Regions from separate parts of the Homo sapiens genome. Here region 1 is linked to region 2. The links come from fine-mapping of genetic effects on gene expression. Tissue or cell type: whole blood. Region 2 holds a variant in brackets; the other region holds the start of a gene. All regions are shown on one strand. Distances are between the middles of the regions.

Region 1 (10,029 bases), 100 kb before region 2:
ATAATGCCACTGCTGTTCAGGGATCTGGCTTCTCTGGCAGCTGCCTGGAGCGGCAGGTGGCATGACTGAAAAGTGCGGGCGAGTTTGCATCTCCTGCAGAAACCTTTGACTGATGGGAGCCAAAAGTTCCATTTTTCTCCCTTCTTCTCGCACTGTTCCAAAACAGAGTGGTCTCCACTATGGAGGCATCGTGAGAGACTGAGCAGCCAGCTCAGTGGTGCATCACCTGGATATTTTTCTGCCTCCTTCTGTGCGTGGCTCATGTCTCCCTTCCCCTTACTTCTGCTTCACTGGGGTTGAAGGAATTGTTGAAGGAAATCCTACTCTCTAAGGAACTGTTATATGGGCCTTTGCATCGGGTCCTATTTTCTAGAGAACTTTTGACTGTCACTTTAGGCATATGGCCCTGTAAAGACTTCTGTGTACGTACCTTTGTTGTATGTGCTCTTGTAGATTGTTCGTGTATTCTTTTTTTCTACTTTCCTTTTTTGCACAATTCAACTCAAAACGAGCTCTTGTTTTTCATACCTTAAGGGTTTAAATAATAATAGCTAACTATGCACCAGGCAGCTTTACAATCATTTTTACTTTACAACAACCCTCTATCTAGGTATTAGCATAAGGACCTGGTTTTACTGGAACAAAAATACCGGAGTTCCTCACCTTACGAAGGGTTTTCGTTTCAGATGGGTGTACTTGGGTGTACTTATGGCCATTTTTTTTATACATTCAAACTTAAGGAGTTGAAATTTCCAGTCCCTGGATGGATTTTCCACAAAGAAGAGGGAGGTGGGCAGCCCTTTGAAGCTTTTAAACAGGCCCACTTTTCTTCTCCTTGCTGATATATGTTTCTGTGGCATCTTTTTCTAAAGTAGGTGTTTTGTATACTTTAAGATTGAAAGTAGGTAATTCCTTTTTAGATAATCTCTTCAAGTGCTGTAGGGAACCCCTTGGCAGCTTCCTGCCTCATAATTCACAGACATTATGAATGTTTTTAAAATTAATTTTTAATTGACAAATATTGTGTATATTTATGGAGTACAATGTTTTGAGCTATATGTACATTGTAGAACAATTCAACTGAGCTAACATATCTATTATCTCACTGACTTAACCTTTTTTGTAGTGACAATGTTAAAAATCTATCTTTTTAGCAATTTTGAAATAGACATTAACTGTGGTTATTGTGAAGTACAATAGATCACTCAAACATATTCCTCCAGTCTAACAGTAACCTTATACCCTTTGGTCAGCATCTTCCCTTTCCCCATCCCTCGCCCCATTCACACTTACCAGCCTCTGGTAATCACCTTTATACTGTTTCTATGAGATGAACTTTTTTTTAGATTCCACATATGTGGGGTCATACAATGTTTGTTTTTCTACGCCTGGCTTATTTCACTTAGCCTAATGTCCTCCAGTTCCACCCATGTTGCAGTGAATGAAGAATTTCCTTCTTTTTTAAGGCTCTATAGTATTCCACTGTGTGTATATATACCCTATTTTCCTTATCCATTCATCTGTTGATGGACATTTAGTTTGCTTCCATATCTTGGCTATTGTAAATAATGCTGAAATGAACATGAGAGTGCAGATATCTCATTGACATACTGATTTCCATTCCTTTGGATATATACTCAGAAGTGGGATTGCTGGATCATATGATAATTCTATTCCTAGTTTTTTAGGAACCTCCATACTACTTTCCAAAATGGGTATACTAATTTACATTTCCACTAACAGTATACCAGGGTTTCCTTTTCTCCACATCCTCATCAACACTTATTTGTCTTTTTGATAATAGCCATCATTTTCTCACCATTTTCAATTGTTATGATCTTTACTTTAGCTCCATCACAATTCTAGTCCTCTTTTTGTGGAAAATGTCAACATTCCTGCTGCTTCAGCATCTGTCAGTTATCATGTGATCAATAATATTCATGTAACACCTCAAATTAAGCAGTATAGAGCAAACACATCCTATTTAATAATATAAACGACTCACCCCACACGCCCTCTGATTGCACCGGGCTTTAGCGGGCAAAGTTAACTCGCTTCTGTTGAGCGGCTTTTAAAAAACTATGTTAGTTAAATCTAGAGTTTTTAACTCCCTATCCTGGATGCAAGACACTTAAAAAGACTTCCTTCCTCTGCTCCCAGAGAAAGCAGCAATAAAATTTTCCACCTTCACTACACCACTTGAGGACTATCTCATGTTTTATTGGGTTTAGGGAGGAAGGGTCTTGCTAATGAGTTACTTCCACGGTGTCACTTCTATTCCTAGTGCTTTATTAAACAATTTGAGGACCCCATTTTTATGCTAGGGCTTCATTGATCGAATGGAGCCATCACATTGTCTATATCACTTTAGAGGTGTTTCCAAAGTTCTCAGCACCTCGAGTCCCTTGTTAGCGTTTGTCGAGAGTCAGCGGGAAAACTCGATACCTAACAGCGTTTCCACCGAAGGCAGCTCTCTGAGGGGCTTCACCATCAAGAGCAAGCGAACCAGGCTGGACCACCCTGCTGGGTCTGTCCCGACATTCCAGGGCCACGCAGGGAAGTCAAAGACGGGAAGGAGAAGATCAGTGGGAGGGCGAGGCGCCGGAATTCCCCACTTCTATACCTCCACCCCTACTACCGCCCCACGTCCACCACCCTCCCCACTGACAGCCCGCCGCGCCCGCCCACGCGGTGACGCCATCTCGCGGCTGCCGGGCGCCCCGCCCACAGAGTGGGAGCCGGAAGCCGGGCGGGCAGCGGCGCGCGGCGTCCCGGAACCCAGCAGCTTGAGAACTCGCGCACCTGGGGGAAGCCGGCAGGAGGCAGCGGGCATGCGCGGGGCTGCGGTGGCGCAGGCGCCCTGCCGCGCCCGCCAGTCGGGAACCGGTTCTCCGAGTCCGAGCTGGCGGCGCGCTGTGGGCTGTGCGGGAGCGAGGGGAGAAGAGGGAGATAGGGAGCCCGACATTTGGGAAGGGCAGGCTTGCCTCTGGGATGGGGAGGAGCCGGTGCACGGATCCTGCTGTGCCTCTGTGCAGGGCGCGCCCAGTAGTTTGGGATTTGCAAGAAAATGCAATCAAACAACATGGGCAAAGTGCGATGCGTTTATCCTAAGCCAAGAACACGCTTAGAATGCACGCCCAGAGCCAGTTCTCCCCAAGGGATGGCAACGCACCTGTGTGCCGGGCTCCGCGCAAGGGCTTTCCCTGTTTATTCTCCCGCCGCCGCTAACAACCTTGTGGGGCGGGCATGGTTGGATCCCCAATTTAAAAGTGGGGAAACTGAGGACAGATTAACCTGTCTGCACGTAACACAGCTGAAAAGTGGTGGAATTGCTATTTCTTTCAGGTTTGCCTGATTCTAGAGCTCAATGCTGCCCATCAGGTGTTTGAAGTCATGATTTGGTGAAAATGGGACAGTGAAGACGTTCTGAAAAAAAAAAAAGGCATATGATGAGGTTTGGACATTGAGAGGTATAGGCTGGCTGTAGGAGTCGGGTAAGTGCCAAGGAAAAGGGCCTCAGGGTAGCTTTTGAATGGGATTTGGCGACAGGGAAGGAGAGAAAGCTTTGGGGTGGTGAGAACAAGGGAAGGGAAAGGGAAAACAAAAGCGTGGAGGTGGGAAAGGAAACCTGGGGAGAAAGGTAAGCGATTGCCTCATTTGGAGTCTTGTGTTTATGTTTGGCTTGCAAATAGAAGCATATATAATTCTAGGGTTGGGCTTTTCTTGCCAAGGAATGGATTTTCTCCTTTCTGTTCTTAGGTTTATGCTGTGATGCACAGTGACACGTACCTCTCTCTGTTCAGCAAGGTTCATTCCGGCTATTCATTTAACAGCTGGAAAGTTCTATATCTGTGGCAAAGATGATCTGCGGTGGAGGGTTTATTCCTGGCCCCTGGCCTTCCTGGCCTTGGTCTTTTGAGTGCTTGCCGGATCCCTAGTTCCTTTCCGGTTCCAGTAGTGAGAGGAATAAACACTTAAAACTCCAGTCCAATACACTCTCAATGTCAATACCCTCCCTATCTTTAAAAGAAGAAAAAAAAATACTAAATCATCTTTGTTTAAAGAATCCTGGCCCCTGTGATTTGTTAATTTGTTCGTGGTTTTATACTGTTACTACTGTAACAGTTTGCACTACACCATTTAGCAACTGATTACTACTTTGTATTAGCCTCTAATTGTTTAATGGGTGTACATTTTATCTCCTTAAAAAGATTGTAAGATGCCTTAGTCATGGGACTGTGCTGTTTATCTCATAGCCCTGACTGCTGACTTAATTGCCTTTTTCAAGTGTCTCTCTTGCCTAACCCTCACCACTCAGTACTCTGCCTGGCACATACTAGGTACTCAGTAAACATTTAATAAATGAAATGCCTCCTGGAGAGCAGGAACAAGCTTGTTATTTATATTGTTCTGGTCCCCTAGCAGAATTATCTTCTCTGGTGGGCACTCAGCACTCTGGTGTGACTTCATCGCTGTGCCTTTCAGCAGGGGAAATATAATCTCCCGGTTGCCCTATAAAGAATTGCCACCTGAACACTATGCCCACAAGAAGTCTGCTGAGAAATAACTGTTGATAGATTGACTTAGCCTCAAAGACATCCTTGATTCTTTTCTAAAGTGTGCATCTGCCCTTCCACAATAAACGATATTTGTGGTTATCTTGGCCAGGCTACCTAAGAAATACTTTAGGAGAATGTAATTTGAGTATCTTCTTGGCTTGAGAAAGCAAGCAAACAAACCAATAAGCAGAATGAAACCAACAAAACCCAATAGCAAAAGGATCTTCGTGTTTAATAACCCTATCTGCAAATTTTAAACAATTTTGTGCCCCTGGGAGAAAGAATGCCTCCTTGCGTGTGAATTTCCAGGGCTTTTAATTTATAGTGACAGTACATTCAACACTTCCTTTTAAATTTGAAGGGAGGTGGCCTTAAAAATATGCTGGCAACTAGTTTGGATGAGAAAGATTCCGGTTCTTTATTTATTCAAACCAATTAGACCAGGTCTGAACAGGATTTACAACAGAGAGCAGATCTTGGGTGCACAAGAGCTTTGCTTCATTCCAGGTTGGCGAAAACAAGTCAAGTCTACATCATTGTTCTGTCAGCCGGTTCAGGATACAGCACAGAGTCGATGGGATGGGGGTGGGAAGGTGATGAGTTCAGGTAAATGTACCTAGGAGAGTCAGAGGCTAAAGTAAATTCTCTTAAATAGGCCTTTTCAGTGGCTGCTAAATCTCGCTCATTTCCCATGAATTAGCTGTGGGATATTGGGGACAACTTACTTCACATTTCTAGGTCTTAGTCTCTTCATTCGTAAAAGGGGGTAACGATAATTTTGGAGTTATAGCATGTAAATGTGTAAAACGGTTAGAGCAATGCCTGGTACACTCACACATAGCACGCGCTTTGTGAAATGTTTGGCAAGTAAATAAAACGCTAAGCTATGCTAACCGCGTCTAAACAGCCAGCCACTTGTAAGCCCCACCTATATTGAAATTACGGGGACGCTGCTGTTTTCCGATTGCAAGATTTTCCTGATCCATGCAATTACTTTCGCTGCCCTCTACGAGGCTGAAACTCGCCCTCAGGATGTGGGACGTCTGGACTCTTCTCTCCGTCCCCTTGTAGCCCCCCACTCCCCCTCGCGGTGGTACCGTGAATGAGGGAGAGGTACACGTCCCCCTTCTTCCCCGCCTCCTATCTTCGCGGCTCGCTAAAGCGTTATCAGCCGCCCCACGGTACTACCGTCCGTCTAGGAACGCCTCCGGGGCGGGGCTGGGATGCCGCGCACGCGCAGTACAGCAGCGCCGCGCCTGCGCCGTGGAGAGCCTGAGGGAGGCGGGGGATTGGTATGCGAGCGAATGTGCGAGGGGAGGGAGGCGTCCCGGCGGAGCGTGGTACTACGACCAGCGCGGGCCGGAGGGGGCGGGGGGATGCGCCGCGGCGGCGGCGGCGCGGGAGCTGGGGTTGGTGTTTGGCGGCGCCAGAGCAGCGGATCCCGGTCTCGCCGCAGCAGCAGCGCGGGTGTCGTGCACCGCCTGAAGACGCCGTACCTTTCTACCCCCCACCTTTTTTTTTTTTTTTTTTAAATAACCGGAACCAATGAACGCAGCCGGGATCAGAGCTCCGGAGGCCGCCGGTGCCGATGGGACCAGGCTGGCGCCCGGCGGGAGCCCGTGTCTGAGGCGGCGGGGGCGGCCGGAGGAGTCGCCGGCGGCGGTGGTGGCGCCTCGCGGAGCCGGCGAGCTGCAGGCGGCCGGGGCGCCGCTGCGCTTTCACCCGGCTTCTCCTCGGCGCCTTCATCCCGCCTCGACTCCTGGCCCAGCGTGGGGCTGGCTGCTGCGGCGGCGGCGCTGGGCTGCGTTGCTGGTGCTCGGGCTGCTGGTAGCCGGAGCGGCGGACGGATGCGAGCTTGTGCCCCGGCACCTCCGCGGGCGGCGGGCGACTGGCTCTGCCGCAACTGCCGCCTCCTCTCCCGCCGCGGCGGCCGGCGATAGCCCGGCGCTCATGACAGGTGAGGGGCCGGGGGGCGGCGGGCGGGGCTCGGCCGGCAGCGATGGGACCCCCAACCCGTGCAGAGGTCAGCATCTCCGCCGGACGTCCGCTATTCCGCGGCTCCGGCCAGGGCGCGATGCGGAGCCCTGCCTGCTGCTTCGTCGCGGTCCCCTGCACTCCGGACGTCTTTCCTTTTCACCCCGACACCCCGCCCTCGCCGAGCCTCTCGACGGCACTGATTCCCCTCCCTTCAGTCGGGCTCTCCGATCTTCCAAGCTGAGCAATGCGGTGGTTTCTCTTTCGTGCTGCAGAAGTGCCAGCAGGGTCTGCAGGGGACTGGGCTGATTTTTTTTTTTTTTTTTTTTTTGAGGCTGCTAGAAAAAGTCAGCAGCAGCATTGCGGTATTGAGTCTACCTCTGGTGCTGCTTTTGCAAAGGCAGCTGGCAGCGAGTCTCACCGGTTCAAAGCTCCGCTTGAGCACAGCGTCCCAGGGGAGCCTGCTAAAGGGGATTCTTTGAGAGCCATAATACCTAGTGATATTAGTGGTTCCGTGTTAGTATGCAGAAATGCCTAAGTTTACAGTGCATTTTTTGCGGGGTGGAAGGAGGCCGTTTTAAGTGGTGATGGAAAGTGTTTGGTGGTGGGAGCATCACTGGGTGACAAAGGGTGTAGAAACCTCAGCAGGTAACCAGAAATTATACCTAAAATTTGCAAAGTGCAGCATACTCGGGGCTTGCAGCTGGCAGCACAGTTCTGATAGACTGCACTAGCACCTTTTTTTTAATATATAGAACGATCTCATAATTGAAAACTTGGAAACGTGTTTTGTAAGGTTAAGTGCAGAATTGTATCCTTTTTAAAGCCTTCCGGTGTTATGTACAACTGATCAGTTGTGGTTTAAGTAAAAGTTATTATATAAGGACCCTGAAATGATTTCTTTGGGAAAAGTAATGGAGCTAAAATAATGGTTTTTTTTTTTTTTTTTAGTATTTCACTTATTTTTAAAGTAGATCTGTAGATTTCCTACAATAATTGTAAGACTAAAAAGTTTAAAGTGGCAGAAGATGACCCGTGATTAATTTAACCAAAATGATAGTCCTGCGGGCGTCTGGAAGTTACTAACAGCTTCTCTGACAAGTGCTCAGGAACTGTATTCTTTAAAGCCAAGCAGTTTCTCTGATTTCTATGATAGGATATTTACTATTCTAGAGAGAAGAAGGATGTTGGTAAACTTTAAAAGCTTTGGAGGATGTAGAGTATAGAACATAATGGTCAGCATGTTTAACTTTACCCTGAAGCATATCAAGCCCTATTAAATGGAACTTGATACATCAAACCTACCAATTGGGTAACTGGGATAAAGTGATTATAGAATAATCAGTATTAGGAGCATAGTACAGTTTGAGTGAGAAGATAGGTCAGACAGCTTTATGCTTGAATAGTATTTATTCTCCAAATAAAAATGTGGCAAGTAACAGTATAGTGAAGAATAGTGATTATTAGGAAAGTTGATAAATAAGACTATAATTTGAAGATTTAATGCCTCATGCAGGAAGGGAAGGAGCAGGAATATTTAGGCTTCTAGAAGGTATAAGTGGTTCTAGGTTTCTCGAGCAGAAAAATGTGGTTAATACATAATTGGCTAATGCTCTGTGAAAAAGTAATTGGTAAAAAGGCAAGCAATTCAGAAAATTTAGTATTTATTGACTGCTAATAAGTATATTTTATACTGTGTAGATCACATCAAGAAAATTGGTCAGATGGAATTTTAATAAGCCATTTACAATCCCTTTTAAGACTTAAATTTCTCTATACTTATTTAAGGCATGGGGGAAAAAGGTGATTCTTATTGGAAAAAAATCCGATGTATCACACAAAATGAGTTTGTGCCATAGGGCTTTAAAATAAGTTTGCTAGAAGAATACCCTGGAATTATTTCTAACGTTCTTTTACTTTCCTTTTGTCAGAATATTGATTTTTAACAAGTTAAACGTTTCCACTTAAAGTTTAAATCATAAAACTACACAATATACAAATTAAATTGTTATTTTAATAAGTTTATGTAAATACAGTCAATAGCACCCATATCTTGGTAAAGGTAAACTGAAAATCTATGATGAAGTTAGAAAATATTGAAAATTTCTTTGAACTATATGGCCTCTATAGGGCTCTTTCCCATTCTTAAGAGTGTATGAATAGTGCTTTCTTTTATGGTTCTATTTGTAAATGTTATGCAAAGCCTAGAACCTAATTTATTAGCATTAGTGTACACTTCAGGAAGTAAAACCGTAGACTGAATTTACAAAATACTGTGGTGTGGTATCATATTGTAGGCAGCGTTAATGGATAGAGATGGAGTAGAGCATCAGTAATAAGAGAACTAAACGTCACGTGAATTTTGAAAATTGAAAATTTTTGAAAGCATTCTGAGAGAAGAATTGGTCTCTTTGTCTCCTGATTAAAGTTGTGATTTAGCTGTGAGTATTCTCAATAGCTCTGCAAAATGACAGCCAAAATCACTTTTCTGTTTTCTTCTCGAGATTGGCATTTTTAATACTTACCTTTAGAAGCTCCCTAAGAGTTAGCCTTTGACTAATAAAATGTATAAAACATTCTTTTTCACTGCAGCTTGCCTCTCAAGTGTTTTACTTTAGGGATTTAGTGTACTTTAAGAGTAAATTGCCTTTAAATTATCCTGTGTTTATTTGCTCAAATAAACTGTTATTGCTCAAAACTATACAAATCATCCAAATAAACAGACCCATTGTCATAATGAATACAGGTTTATATTTTCTTTTCCTTTTTAAATATTACCTTTTCAGAATTCAGTGTGCAAATGTTTTTGGTGAGACAGAACCAATATTCATAACATTATATAGTAAGGGTTTTAAATTACATATACAGCGCTTATATATTTAGGGCACTTACTTTGAAAGTGATTGAAATTTAAAGCAAGTTAGGGATAGGTGACTGAGAGCTTGGTGATTGTATTCTAAAGCAGTGCTTTAATAACTCAAAACAATAGTTTTTTTTTTCCTTCTTTGTCTAACAGATTTAGAGTTGATGAATTGATCCTGGTAGGGAGTGACCGATCTCATCCAGATAGGGTCCCTGAGAAATAGCTTATGAAAGGGAAACAAACAAACAAAAAAATGCCGAATAATTGAAACATTACATTATTTCTTACGGAATTGTTTCAGAATTTTTGGGAACAAATTTTAACTGAAAATATTTGCCTCTATCCTTTTAAAGAATGAATTAAAGTAACATTCTTTAGTGCCTATGTGAAGGTTTTATCTTAACTGTAATACCATTTCACTGATTTGGCATGTTATTAGAAATAACATATATAAAAACATGTTTCTTGGAAGTATTAAAATCTCAATTAAGATTTAATATATTCTTAGTTCAACATATAATACCACATATAATAGCATTTAGAATGGCCACTTTACCCAGTACTGTTACACACATCTGTGTTGTGGGGCTTTCATTAATTTAGATGGAAATACCTCAAATTAGCATGATTGTC
Region 2 (8,000 bases):
TGACAGGAGGACTTGTAGCATTCAGGCAGGCCCCCTTAAATATAACTTAAGGCAGCATTTAGTAAAAAGGAGTAAGGCACTATTTAGAGCAGACAACAGATTACATAGATTTTTTTAGTTTAGTACTTTTCAAACTTTTGATGACGAAAGACCAGATGTTTAATTTCCAGTATATATGTACAGGGTGGACAAGGTGAGCATATTTATCATATGCTCGGCCCAGTTGCTGTGGAAGTGTTTTCTAATTGCCATAATGCTGACACTACTCTGCTGAATGACCACATGTTCAACAGTGTTGTTGATCCTAGAACATTGTTTCTTTATTTTGCTCCCAAGGTTGTTGAGCCTCAGAAAAGTTAAATGATTTGCTCAATATTATACAATTGTTAAAATTTTCTTTTTTAGTTTCAGTAGACAGCAACTCTACTCAGGCAGAATTTGGTGTTTTGTCTGAAGGTGATGTTCATTGCCAGTGTAAAAGTCAGAAAAATATGCCTCTGGCATTTGTAGCTGTGGGGGAATTTTCAGTTTCTGCATTGTGGACTTCTGAAATCTTTTATGTGATCTTATAGTTTTGGAACAATAGAAAAAAAAGATACCATATAAAATAACGAGACAAGAAAAATAAAAAATATTGAGGTAGAAAAAGCATAAACAATTTAAAAACTATTAGTTTCACATAATTAGAGTAATGGGTACATATATGAGCAAAGTATCAAGAGATAAGGCCTAAAAGATTCTCAGAGATAAGATTAATAAGTGGTATTAAGCCATAAAATGGAGTTTGCTTTTTATTGTTAGACAATGGGAAATGGTTTAAAAAGTAATATAGAACAGGTTAGTTTTTAGCAAAGATGATTTCAATGCCTTTTTTTTTTTTTTTTAAGAGACAGGTTCTTGCCTTGTTGCCCAGGTTGGAGTGCAGTGGTGCAATCATAGCTCACTGCAGCCTCAAACTCCTGGGCTCAAGCAATTCTCCTGCCTCAGCCTATCTCTCTCTATATTTCAAAGTAAGATTAATAGAAGGTATACTTCAGTTTTGTAAAGTATACTTTAGCTCTAAACACCATAATCAAATGTCTTTGAATTAAAAGTAGTAGCTTAAAAAAGGCAGAAGAACATAGAAATATGATGCAGTAATTGAGAAGATTATTATTTATTATGTTTTGAAACATCGCTGTCACCAAGTATTTGGTAAAAATGAATGCAGTGATATTGAGGCAGTATATTATGCTGTTGAATATAACCAAATGGCTTGCGTTGGAATTTCAGCTCGATATTCATTATTTTTTCAACCTTGGGCAAATTACTTAGCCTCTTTGGGCCTTGGTTTCTCATCTATTGAATGAAGATAAATAATGCTTTCCTTATAGGACTGTCGTAAAGGTAAATGACTTTCTCTGTATGGACAGATATACAGTGGTCCCTTGGTGTCTGTGGGGGATTAGTTTCAGGACTCCCTCTTCCCCTGCGGATACCAAAATTCATGGATACTCAAATCCCTTATATAAAAATGATATAGCATTTGGATATAACCTACAGACATCCTCCCATATAAATTGTTTCTAGATTACTTACAGTACTTAATACAGTGTAAATGCTATGTAAATAGTTGTTGTAATATATTGTTTAGGGAATAATGATTTTTAAAACTCTGTACCTGTTCAGTACAGACACAGCCATCCATTTTCCCCCAAATATTTTCAATCCCACGAATACTGAACCCACAGATAAGGAGGGGGTGACTGTATACACCTATTTGTTATATAACTTAGAATAATACCCGGTAAATAATAAACATTGACTAAGTACTTCTACTGCTGTTGCTGGTGGTGGTGGCGTTACGATTAGTAGCAGAAGACATTTCATTAAATACATTTTACAAACATGTAAGAATAATGTGACTACAATACCAAAAATTTGCCAGTTACTGTTTGAAAATAGTCACCCACTGGATATCAGATTTCATCTTTTTCTCTAGTTGTCAAGACTAAGGTAATGAATTTATATTTAACTTAATGTTTTCTCTTCTATAGTTCATCAGAGAAGATATGAAATATAAAGATGCTACTAATAAACACAGCCATCTGCACAGAGAAGATAAACATATAACGATTGAGGATTTATGGAAACGATGGAAAACATCAGAAGGTAAGACTGCCTTTGTGATCTGGCCCCCTCCCCTTCTGCACATCTAGCCTGCTTAGTTGTTCTCAACTCACTTATAGTATGCTTTTACCAAAAAAATCAAAATAACATTTCTGTGAGGATATTTATATTTTAGTAAATAATTTTCCCTTCTTGTTTTTGATAGATGATTTTTATCTTTCTGAGAGTCATTAAGCATCAGGCTGTTCTCATATAATTATAGTAGAATAAATAAGATAATGCATGTCTGAGAGCCTAAAGTTGTAAAGCATTATTTCAGCTATTACGTGACATTATTATAAAAGGTTTAGCAAATAAACATATGGAAACACAAAGTTTTCCTTTTAGTTGTGGAGAATAGTTCCTAATGTTTTTAGGAGGCTATTACTGTTAAGCTTTTTCTTAAGTAAATCCTTTATGATGTCTCGTAATAGGTGTATGATAAAATTGGATAATTGGTATTTTATTCCCTTTCTACTGTTAAGTTCTCAAGGTGTATTATGGACAGTAATTGTTTAGTACAGGAAAAGTCTGTGATCTAAAAATCTCAACTTGGTTCCATATACTAGGAAGTTACTAAAATTAAAAAAATTTTACAAGTCCCCTAAACTTACATTTTGTTTTCAGTAACTCAACTAAAATTCCTTCTTTCTAATGCTTCTGTTCTTTCATAAAAGTCAGCAATTATATTGTAAGCATATATTTTTCTCTGAAAAATTAAACGAAATTAAAGGGACAGATTACCAATTAAGAGTGTAAAGAAATAATAAAGTTTACTTGAGTCATTATGATAACATTTAGAAGTGGGAAAATAAATAAAACTGTCCCACCAATGCTCAGTATTTTTCTTAGTGTAGAAGATGGTAGATAGCTTGCTTACATGTGTTTCTGTTGAAATACACTTGGGTTGGGGAAGAAAGAAGAAAACAATTATGCACTTAAAAGAAAAATATATAGA[CT/C]TTTAAAAAAACCTCTCCATTTCTCTTCCCTACACCATTTTAAAATAACATGAGCTCGGATAGGAATAGAAATAAACAAATATCAGTTTCATGAGGAAAAGTGAAAATGGTGGGGAACTCAGCAACAAACTTATTTTATTGACACGACATAGCTCAGCAATCCATAGATACTAAGAAGGGAGGTGGAGATCCATTACAGAGTCTATTGCTATTAGTATTTTTTTAAGGATTAAAATATGTAATACATTGATTGGAACCCACTTGACTGTGTTTGAATGAAGAAAAAAATATTTGACCACTTAGGTCTTGTACTACCTTTGTTCAGCCACCATCGTCTCTTGCCTGGATAATTGTGACAGCCTAATTCATCTCCCTGTGTTTGTGCTCTGCTGTAGTCTCTTCTTCACCTAGCAGAGTACTCTAAAATGTAAATTAGATCTGCTCATTACTCTGTAGTGACTCAGAGTAATAGTCCAAATCTTTACAAAGACCCGTAAGCCTCTACATGTTCTGCCTTCTGTTTCCACCTCTCTCTCATCTCTTACCTCTTCTATTCCATGCATCTCTCTCGCTCACTGTGCTCCATTCATTCTGGACCTGTGGCTATTCAACAAATGCAGGAATGCACACATCCTCATGGCTAACTCCATCACCTCCTTTGTTAAAGTCTTTATCAAGGGTTATGGTCTCAGTGAAACCACTCTGGCCACCCTGTTTAACATTGCTAACCTCCCCTTTTACTCATTTTTTTTTCTGGTACTCTTGATCTTTCTTACTCAGCTTCACACTTTCCTTTTCCCCATCGTGTATCACCTTCTAAGATACTATATAATTGACTTGCTCATTATATATATCTCCCTTTGCCTCACCCCCAAGAATGTAAGTGTTATAGAGCAGGGGAATGTTGTATGTTTTGTTTATTAATGTATCCTAAATAAAGAGGACTCTATTCTTAAACTCCTTTTTGTTTTCCCACCCTAGTGACTTTGGTGAGATCTTTTGTGATCTATGAGAATGTTTGTTTACTTGATTTTTTTTTTTTTTAAGCTAAGGCCTTTTCAAGTTGAATGACGTCTTAAACCTCTTTTTCCCTAGGCTTTCACCTTAATCTGAGATCTAACCATTATGATAATGAGGGATTTCCTCAGTTCAAACAGTTGGCCTAAGTTATCTCCTCTCTGCTTCCTTTTCTCTAAGCCCCAGTTGGCTATATAACCTTACAGAGTCTGGCAGAAGTAGTCTCAGTATTCCTAGTAATGCAGCTGTATGGGATGAAAGAGAGAGGAGTCAAGTGATAATAAACTTTCACTAGAAGCTTTATAATGACCTAATTGATTTTTCTCAACCCATGTCAGACTCTGTTTATTAAAGGGGTCATGTAAGGGTGGGGTATTGTTGCCAGAGCACTGGTTTTTAAAACATTCAGGCTCCAGGAGGAGTCCCAGGGACAGGGCATGTTGAGTGTGCCGGGCTCTGCTTTTATCTGTTATATTTTGTTTCTGTTGAAAATTTCTCTGGAGAAACGAAAAGTAGTTCTTCTGAAAAAGTTTGAAAACTGCTGAAGTAGAGATTAGAATGTACCCCTAACAATAACATGTAATTCAAGGTTGTTTACTTGAATATATACAAAAGTGTGTGTATGTGTGTATATATGTATTTATACAGAAAGTGTGTATGTTTGTGTGTATGTGTGTATGTATATATATGTATATATAAAACACACACACACATACATACACATGCAAATATATGCATTCATTCTTTGCTTATCATTGTTGTGTCTCCCATGCCTAGCACAGTGCATTCACTTTGTATTCAGTAGTAAATATTCACTTTGATATTCAGTAAATAATTGTTGAATGAATGAAAGAGTAATGCCTGATAAGTATTGGATGCTTAGTAATTTAGTTGGTCAAATGTTTTGAGTACAGGCATTTCTGTTATTAGACATTATGTGCATTTCTTAAAAACTTAACGTTTTTTAAAATTTTGGACTTAAAAATGACAGTTTATGGGAAAAATGGGACTGAAGGAGATTACTCAAAACCTGTACAACTTATTAGCCATGGCATTAACAGTATTAATAAAAATACTAGTACAGGCCAGGCGCAGTGGCTCATGCCTGTAATCCAGCACTCTGGGAGGCCTAGGCGAGCAGAGCACCTGAGGTCAGGAGTTCAAGACCAGCCTGGCCAACATGGCAAAACCCTGTCTCTACTAAAAATACAAAAATTAACTAGGCTTGTTGGTGCGCTCCCGTCATCCCAGCTACTAGGGAGGCTTAGGCAGCAGAATCACTTGAACCTGGGAGTGCGCTACTGCACTCCGTCTCAAAAAAAAAAAAAATACTTGTACCGCTAAAAAGAATTTCAAATTCCTAATCAATACATACTATATAGTAGATATAGGAATTTACATTAAAAAATAATGAAGATAACTTTATAGAAGGATGGATGGGGGGTTCTAGTAGAGTTGAGGTTGCTAAAAAATGAAGACAAGGGCAAAGTGCATGAAGATGAGAACCGAGCAACAAGCATTTCCAAGACAGAGGCTCTGGCCAAATTGAGCAAAGATAAAGAAGGAGGGTAAGTAGAAGCTCCTGTTTGTAGCTTGCTGTATTGGCAGTTAGTACACCTTGCATCCATTTGATAATTACTTGGCAATGTGAAATGATACCATGTTTGGAAAAGTCACATGTGAAATGATGTGACTTTTGCGTTGATGTGACCCCTAATTACTAGTGGCACATAAAGTAATTCATGTTACAGCAGCACGTGCAGCAAAATAGACTGTATCTATTAGGTGGTAAACAAGCACTGCATTGGATCCTGGGGATTAATGATGAGTTAAACATGAATCTGGTGTATACAGAGCAAATTGCTGGGTAGGAAAGACAAAGAAAACAAATAATTACACTATAAGGTGATATGTACAATAATAGCAGTAAGTTTAGGGTATGGAGGTAGCTCACTGGAGGGAGTGATTAGCTCACTATTATACACAGAAGGTGGTGTTCGGGTTGACCCAGGAGTTCTAGAAGGAGACAAGAAGTAGAACATAAATGGTAGCTCCCCCATGGCATCTTTTTTTTTTCTTGAAATAGACAAGGTTTTGCTCTGTGACCCAGGCCGGAGTGCAGTGGTGTGATCATACCTCACTGCAGCCTCAAATTCCTGGGCTCAAGTGAGCCACTAGAGTAGTTGAGGCTACGGGCGTATACCACCACGACTGGCTTATTTTTTATTTTTTGTTGGGACGGGATCTTACTATGTTGCCAAGTCTTGTCTCCAGCTCCTGGCCTCAAGCAGTCCTCCTGTCTTGGCTTCCTAAAGTGCTAGGATTACAGGTGGGAGTCACCACACCCAGCCTCCTTCTTTAGTTACCTGAAAATTTGCTAGAAGTGAAAGTGGAGGCGGCATGCTATAGAAAGTATGTAGGCTTTCAAACTATACAGCTTTAAATTCTGGCTCTTCTATTTATGAATAGTGAGGCATTGGACAGATTTTGAAAATTCACTTATAAAATGTAATTCTTGTGTGACATAAATCAGTAATGTAGTGAAAGTACTTGACATAATTTATGGCAACACCTGTTAGGCGCTTAGTAAAGGTTGATTCTCTCATTCAGTAATAATGCGAAATAAACTAAAAAGTTCGGCCATATTCAAAGTTTTGTACTGTTTTTGACTTAGTCTCACAATATTTATTGATAAAATGAACAGACTAAGCTATATATTTACCAGCATTGTGTGCAAACTCTGGACAGTGAAATGTACCCAAGATCTTTCTGGAATGTTGTCAACTGTGGGAAAGTAAAATTGTTTTATGCAGAAGTTGATCCTGACCTCAAATAGAATTTCAGCAATGACTTTAATGCAGTGTGTGTGTGTGTGTGTGTGTGTGTGTGTGTGTGTGTGTGTATGTGTGTCTGTGTCTGTGTGTAGAGAGAATGCTTGGTCAAGTTGCACATGGCAGCTGTCTAATGCAAATGAAAGCCATTTAAAAACTAGTGTTAGATTTCAGATAGATTTTGATAAACTGGATACATTGTGAGAATTACTGAATGTATTTAAATAGTAGCCAGATACCTAATGCAGGAAATTGTACATAGAAAATATTTGTTATATACAAGATTTAGAGACTATAGTAGATAAAAAACTGATTAAGTAAGACACTGTTTTTAAAATGAAAACTCACTGGGTTAGTTATTATAACATGTGACAACCATGAGGTAATCTTTCCATCCTGTTCAGCACAAGTCTTAACCTACCTAAGGTCACTGTTTAATTTTGGGCTTTACAAATTGAATAGACATTTGGAAATTTAAGATAATGTTTATTTATTTAAGGGTTAAAAATTTAAAGCAACTGAAATAGTCTGAGAGAAGAAAGATACAGGCACTTAATAATGGTTATTTTCAAGTGTACCTAAAGGCTAGCCAGAGACTAAATGACCAAGAGTATTTTCTTTTTGTTTAGGACAGCGAAAATATAAGTATTTTATAAAAGGAAATATAAAGAAAAAAATTTCTGGCCATTGATACAAAATTCCTAAAAGTAAGGGAAGTTATAAATATTTTAAAAATATCTAGAACCTTTATATCCATAAGATTTTTCTTCTGGGTATGAAAGTATAAAGGGATTTCTAAATGTTGATAAAATCCACCAGCTCTTTAAAGTGTATGATGTTGGTTGCAATGAGACTAGAATAAAAAAACTGTAAATAGAAAAGTGTGTATTGTTTAGCATTATCAGAAGAGGAACTTAAAACGTAAGCCTTGCAGATCTAATAAGGTAGTGTTATCTTTGTGGCATCCATCAACAAAATATTTATTTGTATATTTACAATATGCATCACACTCATTAGTAGAAAATAAGGAAGTATGAGAGACAAC

Evidence for each region. PIP is the estimated chance that this variant, and not a neighbour inherited with it, causes the effect.
Region 1: STIM2 starts here. The variant in region 2 is fine-mapped to the expression of STIM2 in whole blood (INTERVAL, PIP 0.97).

The regions. Positions count from the first base shown.
Region 1 is chr4:26,854,854-26,864,882 of GRCh38, forward strand. STIM2 (stromal interaction molecule 2) reads left to right here and starts at 5,988. Exons shown (of 12, transcript NM_020860.4): 1 at 5,988-6,516. The coding sequence starts at 6,366. STIM2-AS1 (STIM2 antisense RNA 1) reads right to left here and starts at 5,746. Exons shown (of 2, transcript NR_134674.1): 1 at 5,657-5,746; 2 at 4,771-5,175. It also overlaps a transcript of TBC1D19 not described here. RefSeq lists enhancers at 2,365-2,464, 5,545-5,644 and silencers at 2,585-2,874, 2,895-2,944, 5,735-6,104, 6,115-6,684.
Region 2 is chr4:26,955,576-26,963,575 of GRCh38, forward strand. It overlaps STIM2 (stromal interaction molecule 2), which reads left to right. Exons shown (of 12, transcript NM_020860.4): 3 at 2,037-2,151. Among named protein-coding and RNA genes, the nearest start is that of STIM2, 99 kb to the left of the region's middle. The variant CT/C (reference allele first, on the strand shown) is at 3,107.